3 separate regions of the Homo sapiens genome follow, and regions 1 and 2 are each reported to be linked to region 3. Evidence: microRNA targets listed by miRTarBase, many of them from high-throughput screens and not tested one by one. Region 3 holds a microRNA gene; each other region holds the end of a gene's coding sequence.
Evidence for each region. Region 3 holds the annotated microRNA hsa-miR-6766-3p (UGAUUGUCUUCCCCCACCCUCA, at 887-908, shown strand). A microRNA usually pairs through its seed, bases 2 to 8, with sites in the 3' UTR of a target mRNA and lowers its output. Matches are read on the target gene's strand: a 7mer-m8 pairs with bases 2 to 8, a 7mer-A1 pairs with bases 2 to 7 and ends in A, and an 8mer does both.

Region 1 (3,000 bases), not on the chromosome of region 3:
AGACCACTGCACTCCAGCCTGGCGACAGAGCAAGACTCCGTCTTAAAACAAACAAACACACAAACAAACAAAAAACCTGCTTCTTCCCCTCGGCTCCGCTTCCCATCAGCACCTCCCACCCCACCTGCTGTCTCACACAGCCACAAACACACAGCAGGGAGACACTTCCTGCCTCAGGGCCTTGGCACATGCAGTTCGCTCTATGCTCCTCCCCCACCCGGCCCCAACTCCTTTCCTCCCTGACTCCCCTCTGGCCGCCTGGCCCTCCAGGCTCTCTGAGACCCTTGCTGATGATGCCCTTTACTCTCTCTAGGACAAGCACTGATCCTGAGGGGATACTGTGGAGCAGCCCAGTCCACACCAGAGCCCCACGCGGCTGCCCGGCAGTACCTCCTCCAGGCAGGAGCCGGGACTGTCACTTTGGAGACAAAACAGTGTTTGTAACAATAACGTACTCACCGCCGCGGACAATCCCCCACCCCGATCCCTCGCCAGACCAGGACGCTTCCTCAAGCCCAGCCTTCTACAGAGAGTGTGAACGGTACAGCCCCGGCCTGACCCGGGGACCTTCAGCCTGGACACCCGGCAGCTTCTGGAGTTTGTCAGTGGAGGCAGAGGGGATCCGGCCAGGCCCCTCTGTCCAGAAGGAGCTGCCCTGAGGACCATCTTAGCGGCCCTGTCCTCTTTTTCCGCCCATTCTCCCTCGGGTCTCCCCAGAGGGGCCGGCGGGGGCTGGGGAGGGGGTAAGTTTATCCATGCAGACACCAAGGGGGAGCATCCAGTCTTTAAGAGCCAAGTGGGGGCCCCTTTTCCGAAGCCACTTCCAGGCCAAGGCAGTCGCCAGGGCTTCTTGTCCCCACCTTCTGAACCTTCTTCAAACAGTAGTACAAGCTCCCCTCAGCCAGCCTGCCTGCCCAGCGAGGCCCCCAGGTTCAAGGTGTTGGCGGGGGCGGAGGGCAGGGGAACGGGATCCTTCTCCCGCTGCCCACCAACACCAACACACACACACCTCTAAGCTGCTGGCCGAAGATGTCACCAAGGCCAAAGACACAGTATTATGAAGGTTTGGAAACCCCTCTCCTCACCTCCCACCGTGACCTTGGGCAAACCCTGGCTCGGAGCCCAGGGCAGAGGCAGCTCAGAGTGGAGGCTCTAGGCAGGTTTGACAAAGGTCAGTAATACGGTTTCCCCTGGGGTTGACCAGATGTTCCAAAATATCTGCATCCACCTGGAGATGCAGCTAAGTGGGTCCTTATGTACACACCACGTTCACACACACACAGAGGGACCACGTGTGCACGCATGACCGTGTGGGTGGCGGCGTTTGCTGTGAACCACGCTCAGGCCACACAGAGACACATACTTGGTTTCTGGGACTGAGACCCAGGCCTGGCAGGACCGTGCCTACAGATACTGCAAACGTTCCTACAGCCTAGAGGTGCGTATACACACCCAAGTACACGCAGCCAGGCATTCAGGGGTGTGTTTGCCACATGGAGCATCCCTTCCTGGTCTTGCCAGGCACCTGCACAGAGCGTCTCCAGCCCCATCTCCTAACGGGGGCTGGGGGTAAGAGAAATCTAACTGCGCTCCCCCAACCCCTCGCCCTGCCATCTTCCCCTCAAGCCTGCTAAGTTATCCCAGGCCTGTGCGTGGTGGAAAAAGCCAGCCTTGGCCCTGCAGCCTCCACCTCGCCGCTGGGGGACCAACAGGTTGCTTACAGCTTTGCACCCCGGCATCAGCACAGGGGTCCCTGCCCCACCCTCCGGCAGCTCAGGGAGTGTTTTCCTGTGAGGCCTCCCCCATCAGTGGACCAGAGGGAGAAGCCCGATGCCCCATCCCGGCTTTCCCGTAACGCACAGGACACGTGTGCAATTCATAGGAACGGCCCAGATCGCCCTCATGAGTGCCACCTGGTACAGGTAGGTGGCGCTCACGTTCCTGCCCAAATGCAGCCCATCGGGGAGTCACAGTCAGTCCCCCCGGCCCCCCTCCCAGTCCCTGTTGGCTTTCGGTAGCTCTCGCATGCAGTTCTATTAACAGCCGTCTAGAAGCGATGCTTTAGTGGCCTAACCCAGGGTCAAATACAGCTCTTTCTAGCAAAATCAGGCAGCTCTGCCCCATCGGTAGGGGCACCGATTAGTCTACTAACAGCCAGAGGTCCATCTAGCAGGGTGCCGGGAGGAGCTGAGCCCCCGGAGGTGGGCTCCTGGTGACGGGTGTCCAAGAAGCGGTTTCCTTGGGAGCTTCTGCCTCCGTGGGCCTCTCAGCCCGCCCCGTGTGGCCGCCCGGGTGTGGCTCAGCCATGTCCCCTCCCCAGGTCCTTCATTCACCCCTCCCCTCCCCACAGTGGAATTGTTGAAGTGTGGCGAGTCTGTGCTCGGGACAATAAAGCTTGTGACAGGTCCAGGACCCCGGCAGTTGGCTTGTCTCCTCCTCTCCGTGGGGACCCCGGGCTTCTCGATCTCTCCCAATTCTTGGGCACCCTGGTGCCAGGAGATGGCCCCCGATCCTGCCCTCTGCCAGCTCATTCCTTCCCAGGTAGGCACGGCCTCAGAGGGGCTGGAGCTGAAGACATCTGGGGCTGTCCTTGTCCCAGGAGAGGCACCTTAGCAAGGACAGGCAGAGGACAGACCCAGAAAGGCTGCCAGAGAGGGCTGGTCCTGGGTTCACATTTGAACCTGCTGGAGGGATAAGTAGACCTGCAAAAAAAGTCAATGGAAACGGTAACGGATCCGCTCACACACGTGTGATGAGTCCGAGGCGGTTTCCAGCTTCAGTGGGCAAATTCCGGTTCCCGCAGCAGGCTTTCCGGAGATCAGATCAACAGCACGACGTGTTGCAAACTTTGTGGTCAAATAGGCTTTCAAGTGGAGGTTGCCCCCCTGGAAGAGAGAATGAGAATTTTTTTTTTCTCCCCAAGATGGAGTTTCACTCTGTCACCCAGGCTGGAGTGCAGTGTCACGATCTCTGCTCACTTCAACCTCCGCCTTTCAGGTT
Region 2 (3,343 bases), not on the chromosome of region 3:
CCTAAGTAGTAGCTTGAATGAAGCAGGAATCCTTAGCACTTGGATGTGTTGAGAAGGGGCTCTTTTGGCCGTGAGCATGGATGCCCAAAGGAGTTAGAAGTGGCTTTTCCCTCACCTTCAGCCTGGAAGCCAGAACCCTGATCTCTACTCAAACACATGGACAAACCCGTACTCCCCTTGTTCAGCCCATAAAGAATCTGTGCTGCTTTGAGCTGGGCCAGCAGAGGAGTGTGACTTCACAAAAAAGACAGACTTTGGAGTCAAGAGACCTGGTTTTGAGTCTTGTCTTTGTGACTTACTAGCTGTGTGACTTTGGAAAAGTACTTTGTTTTCTTTCTCTTTGAATCAGAAATTATCATCTGTTTTGGAAAAAATAATTCCTCCCCAGGTTTTTGGGAAAATTTAATCCTATGAGATAATTTATGTGAAAGCATCTTACAAAGTCCTTGACACTTGGTGGATATTTAAACACAGTAGGAAGAAATAATGACCAGAGAGGAAGAATGTGCCAGTATTTCTCCAGAGCTATTCCACAGAGTATTTTTACAGTGGGATATCATGAGCTGTGTGACCCTGGGTAAGACCTCTTACCTCCCTGACTCTTGATTTCCCCTCATAATGGATTTTTCTTTTTTTGAGATGCAGTTTCACTCTGTTGCCCAGGCTGGAGTGCAGTGGCACGATCTTGGCTCACTGCAACCTCTGCCTTCCAGGTTCAAGTGATTCTCATGCCACAGCCTCCCTAGTAGTGGGATTACAGGTGCATGCCACCATGCCCAGCTAAATTTTGTATTATTAGTAGAGACAGGGTTTTGCCATGTTGGCCAGGCTGGTCTCAAACTCCTGACCTCAAGTGACCCGCCTGCCTCAGCCTCCCAAAGTGCTGGGATTACAGGCATGAGCCACGACACCTGGCCTCAGAAGGGATTTCTGACCCCAAGAGGGAGAGACTCCTAAAATTTGAGGTTAAATGTCAAAGTGTGTCACTTTCTTTAACAGAATAGAGATTTATTACCTTGTTTCCAAGATGCCATCAATTATAAGATCACAAGTTTTTGAGAGGAAGTAAAGAACTACAATTATATTAATGAACCCATCAATTGCAAGATATGTTCTGATTTCAGAATCATTAAAATGTGAAGAAATGTCTATCTTGCAATTGAAAAAAAAGCCTATAATAATAATAATGTTGGCTCCTAGGCTGGGCACCATAGTCCATGCCTGTAATCCCAGCACTTTGGGAGGCCAAAGCAGAAGGATCACTTGAGGCCAGGGGTTCAAGACCAGCCTGGGCAACACAGCGAGACCCCATCTCTACAAAAATAAAAAATAAAAAAATTAGCCTGGTGAGGTGACACATACCTGTAGTCCCAGCTACTCTGGAGGCTGAGGAGGGAGCATCCCTTGAGCCCAGGAGTTCAAGGCTGCAGCGAGCTGTGAGCGTGCCACTGCACTCCAGCCCAGGTGACAGATTGAGGCTCTGTCTCAAAAAAAAAAAAAAAAGAAAAGAAAAAAGAAAAGAAAAAGAATCCTGGTTCCCATTTATTAAGCATCTCCTGGGTGCCAGGCGCTATACTCCAGATGTTTTCCTAAGTCCTTCACTTGTTATAGTGCCCCAATGAGGCAGGTGTTATCATTTCCACTTCATGGTTAGGAAACTGAATATAAAGAGGTTGAGTCACTTTTCCAAGGCCACACAACCAGGAAGTAGGGCTTGGATGGTAGGACTTCTTAATTCCAGATACTTTCTCTTCTTGGTAGATTGTTCTCCAGGCTAAGGAGTCACAGACGAGGTTGCTATAGAATAGAAATGGGTTGTGAATGTGTTGCTTTGAACATGTCTTGAATCTGCAAGGTGACCAGGAAGGACAAAGGTAACATAGATAGAGTTGTAATCTAATTAATCTCCAAATACTGGTCCTTGGAGGGAAGGCATTAACAGGACAGTCAGCGTGCTCAGAATCCAGATAAAGGGGAGCCAAAGACCAAGACCGTCAGGGTTGATACAGCCCAGAGTGGGAGAAGGACCCTGATCAGCCACCAGGATCATTCCAGGCCCACGGACAACACAACAAGCTCCTACCCTAGAGGCCACTATTCTGCAGAGTCACCCTATTCCATCACTGACTCTTTACTAATGAAGCAGAAATCTTTTGAGGATAATTTAGTTCTTCTTGCAACCTTTCTTCAAGAGGGGAAAATGTGCTGAGCAATTGTCATGAGCCAGCAGGCAGAGATGTAGTACTGGAACAAGTTATACGTTAACAAGGTTTTCTGGTTAGTTAGTCCAAGTTAGTTCCCCTGTGCCTGGTTATGGGATTGAATGTTTTGCTCTGTGAAGCAGTGGATACGGCGCTTCATCTGATATGAACCCCGTGACAGATCCTATTGTGATACTCTCAGCAGTGCTCCCTGACACCTGGCTCCTGGGCTATCTGTCTATCTGTCTAACTACAGTGTGGGGGAAAGCCAAGCCCACATTGGTGGATTCCCAACATAGCTCTACCTCATCAGATGACAAAAGAATGTTCTGCAGCTTTTTGGTGGGGTGGCGGCAGGGATGTGGACACAGTTGGGGTAGGGCAGGGCAGACAAGGTTGAGGATTGCTGGAAGCATCAGAGATTGCGTCAAAGATGTCTCTGTCGACCTGACCAGAAGAAGCTCATTGTGAAGCTGCCAGAGAGTGTGCCTCTGGGTCTTGACTCTGGAGAGGCTCTTTGGACAGTGGTGGAGATAGCGCCAGGGTAGAGGTCATCGCGTCTCCACCTGGACGTCAACAGGACTGAAGGTCACAGTTGCTGGGTGTTGGCTGCCGTTGCTGTTTGGGCCCACGGCAGAAGGGGCGGTTGGCTTGGGGCCCTTGGGCTCTAGTTCCCGCCTCGTCCTCATTTTCCTGTAGGGAGATAATGTGCACATGGTTGAGTCTTTCCCCTGGTATGCCGCGGGGAATGGGCTCTGCGACTACAGTTCTGGCCAACAGATTAATGTAGATTAATGTAGACATTAAATCACATTGCTTACTTGCCACCACAGAATTTTACAACTGGAAGTGACCTTAGGCATCAGCTAGTCTGCCCTTCAATTTTTTCACTTAGATCAGATATTTAATTTTATTTGTTTCTATTAAGGAATGAGTAAGATGTCAGAGGTGGCTATATAAAAGATAAAAATAAAGATATTACATTTTTTATGTTCAAAGTTGTAGCATGTATTACATTTTCCAGCCTCATTATGCTTGCTAAGTTTATTGCTAGAAATATTTAAGAACTTTTTACATAATTGAAAAGAGAATGTACTGAAAACATTTATCTTGGCTTCATTTAATATGCCGTAAAATTCAAT
Region 3 (3,000 bases):
TGGCACAGAGTCATTACTCCACGTGTGGCAGCCATTTTCACTTTTGCCATCTATATTTCCCACATTACCCCTGAGGATGGGATGATATTGTTCCCATTTTATAGATGAAAGAACTGAGGCTCCGAGAGATGGGGTTGCTTACCCAGGGATGAGTAACAGTAGAGCTGGGATTTAATGCCGTCTGACTTTTGAGCTGTGCCATGTCAGTGGCTGGGTTGAGGCTTGCTAAACCAGCTCAGGGATTGGGCCAGTCTTGCCTCCTGTGGTCATTTATGGCAGCTCCTGGTGTTTGCCTCCAAGGTGTCCCCACCCAGTGACTCTGGCCGGCATGCTGGAGATGGGTGTCTCCTACCTGCCTGTCAACCAGAACTGGGAGCGTTACCTGGCAGAGGCACAGGGCACTTATGAGGAGCTCCAGCGGGAGATGAAGAAGTCGTTGATGGATCTGGCCAATGATGCCTGCCAGCTGCTCTCAGGAGAGAGGTAGCCAGGCCTTGGGTGGGCAGGATCTAGGCAGGGGACTGGCAGGTGGGCGGCCTAGCCTTCGGCTTAGCCTTAGCCCTGCCCTAGTGGACTGGCTCTGTAGGTACAAAGAAGACCCCTGGCTCTGGGACCTGGAGTGGGACCTGCAAGAATTTAAGCAGAAGAAAGCTAAGAAGGTGAAGAAGGAACCAGCCACAGCCAGCAAGTTGCCCATCGAGGGGGCTGGGGCCCCTGGTGATCCCATGGATCAGGAAGGTGGGGAGCATGGGTGGGAGGTAGGGTAGGGTAGGGGTTGTCTCTGGGAAGGTCCTGTGATTGAGGGGGTCCTTCGAAAGGATTGCTCCAGCCTTCTGGAGATGAGCGGGTGGGAGCAGATCTTATTGAGAGTTCCTTCTCCTGCTCCTGATTGTCTTCCCCCACCCTCACAGACCTCGGCCCCTGCAGTGAGGAGGAGGAGTTTCAACAAGATGTCATGGCCCGCGCCTGCTTGCAGAAGCTGAAGGGGACCACAGAGCTCCTGCCCAAGCGGCCCCAGCACCTTCCTGGACACCCTGGGTGAGCCCTGCCCACCCCCAGCAGTGTATCTAGAGTCTACCCTTGCTCCATTCTCAGGACAGCCCTGGTCTGGGTTCTGGCACAGAGGCATCATGCACATGTATACTTATTGACCTGCTGCCATTCAGTCACACTGTCTTCCAGTCCTATTCTCATTTGCTCACTCTGGACCGGCTCACTGGACTCATTCAGCACAGTGTTGTGAGCACCTGCTGTGCAATGGCCCGTGGCAGCCACCGGGTGTACACACTGGAGCATAGCTCCTCCTTTCCAGTAGTTCTTTTTCCTAGGAGGAGCCAGGCACGTAGACCAGCCAGTGCAGCTAGTGTCCATAGGTAGAGTTCTGACTCTGCCTCGGGAAATAAATCAAGAAGGCTTCCTTGAGAAGGTGCCCCTTCCTTTGAGCCTCATAGGGTGGCAGAGATGAGAAAAAGGGCAGCCAGGGTGAGCAGCAGGGTGCCAGCTTTGCACCTGCAAGACCCTGAGAGCAAGTGTCCTGAGTGCCTTGCTAGTCTCACCCTGGGCTCAACTCTGGTGAACAGCCTGCAAGAGAGCACCCAGAAGGACTGGTGTTTCTCTAGAGGGGTGGGGAGGGCAGATCTGCTCCCTCCTCTGGTCAGTTACCCTGGATGAAATGGAGCTTGGGAAGGAGCCCTGCCCTGGGTCAGGGTATGCTTTTGTGTCCTGGCTTCTGACTAGTCCAGTGGGACTGACTTAGTGTCTTTGCTTTTGAAATATTCTTCTAGAGGATTCCATGGGGGTCCTGGCTAAAGCATCCCAGAGGAGGGGATGGCGGCTGTAGGCTGGGGTCACCAGAAAGCCCCAGGGCTTTGGAGGGTGGGTGGGGACATTGTGAGAGAGAGAACCTTCCCCCCAACAACTGCCCTTACCATCGTGACACTGCTGTCTTCCTGCTGGGACGTAGATGGTACCGGAAGCTCTGCCCCCGGCTAGACGACCCTGCATGGACCCCGGGCCCCAGCCTCCTCAGCCTGCAGATGCGGGTCACACCTAAACTCATGGCACTTACCTGGGATGGCTTCCCTCTGCACTACTCAGAGCGTCATGGCTGGGGCTACTTGGTGCCTGGGCGGCGGGACAACCTGGCCAAGCTGCCGACAGGTACCACCCTGGAGTCAGCTGGGGTGGTCTGCCCCTACAGGTAAGGCTTAGGCCCAGGGGAGGAAGGGGCTGGAGCCTAGGGACCCCTTCCCCTGGCTGGTCAGCTCAGGCTAGTGGAAAGAGTTTGGGTTCAAGAGTCTGGGTTCAGAAGAAGGGAAAACAGGAAAAAAATTAACACACACACACACACCCTCTCTCTCTCTCTTTCTCTCTCTCTCACTCACTCACTCACTCTCTCTCTCACTCACTCACTCTCTCACTCACTCTCTCACTCACTCACTCTCTCACTCACTCTCTCACTCACTCACTCTCTCACTCTCTCACTCACTCACTCACTCACTCACTCTCTCACTCACTCTCTCACTCACTCACTCACTCTCTCTCACTCTCTCACTCACTCACTCTCTCACTCACTCACTCACTCACTCACTCTCTCACTCACTCACTCACTCTCTGGGTTCAGGTTTTTTCTTCCATGGCTACCCTTACCCTCTGGATCTCAGAGCTCTGGGAGGGAGTATGTTGAGATGTTCACAGTGGGGAGGACTAAAGGCCCTACTCTTGGGCCCAGAAGCATAGCTGCCTTCACAGGAACATGCGGAGGGCTGTTACAAGTAGCAGGGAGATGGGCTTTTAAAAAAGTGTGTGTATATAATTTGAGTGATAATTATGGGCCAAGCAGTGCTTCCCTTATTTGTTCCCCAAGGAGTCCCATGAGCTAGAATGGTTATCCCCATGTTGTAGTTGACAAAGGCTTGGTTGACTTAAGATCACAGACCCTGAGCTTTAGGCAGGCAGGTGTTGGGGAGAAACTTACAGTGGCCCAGAATTAAGAGTCCT

Region 1: the mRNA of CLIP2 is a reported target of hsa-miR-6766-3p. Seed matches in the 3' UTR shown: 7mer-m8 at 467-473.
Region 2: miRTarBase lists NCMAP as a target of hsa-miR-6766-3p. The part of its 3' UTR that is shown has no 7-base or 8-base seed match.

The regions. Positions count from the first base shown.
Region 1 is chr7:74,403,524-74,406,523 of GRCh38, forward strand. CLIP2 (CAP-Gly domain containing linker protein 2) reads left to right here. Exons shown (of 17, transcript NM_003388.5): 17 at 314-2,412. The coding sequence ends at 325. Among named protein-coding and RNA genes, the nearest start is that of GTF2IRD1, 49 kb to the right of the region's middle. RefSeq lists enhancers at 1,143-2,007, 2,008-2,870.
Region 2 is chr1:24,605,157-24,608,499 of GRCh38, reverse strand. NCMAP (non-compact myelin associated protein) reads right to left here. Exons shown (of 4, transcript NM_001010980.5): 4 at 1-2,894. The coding sequence ends at 2,753. Among named protein-coding and RNA genes, the nearest start is that of SRRM1, 36 kb to the left of the region's middle.
Region 3 is chr15:89,324,650-89,327,649 of GRCh38, reverse strand. It overlaps MIR6766 (microRNA 6766), which reads left to right and starts at 840; the gene lies at 840-911. It overlaps POLG (DNA polymerase gamma, catalytic subunit), which reads left to right. Exons shown (of 23, transcript NM_002693.3): 7 at 301-483; 8 at 587-738; 9 at 912-1,038; 10 at 1,964-2,200.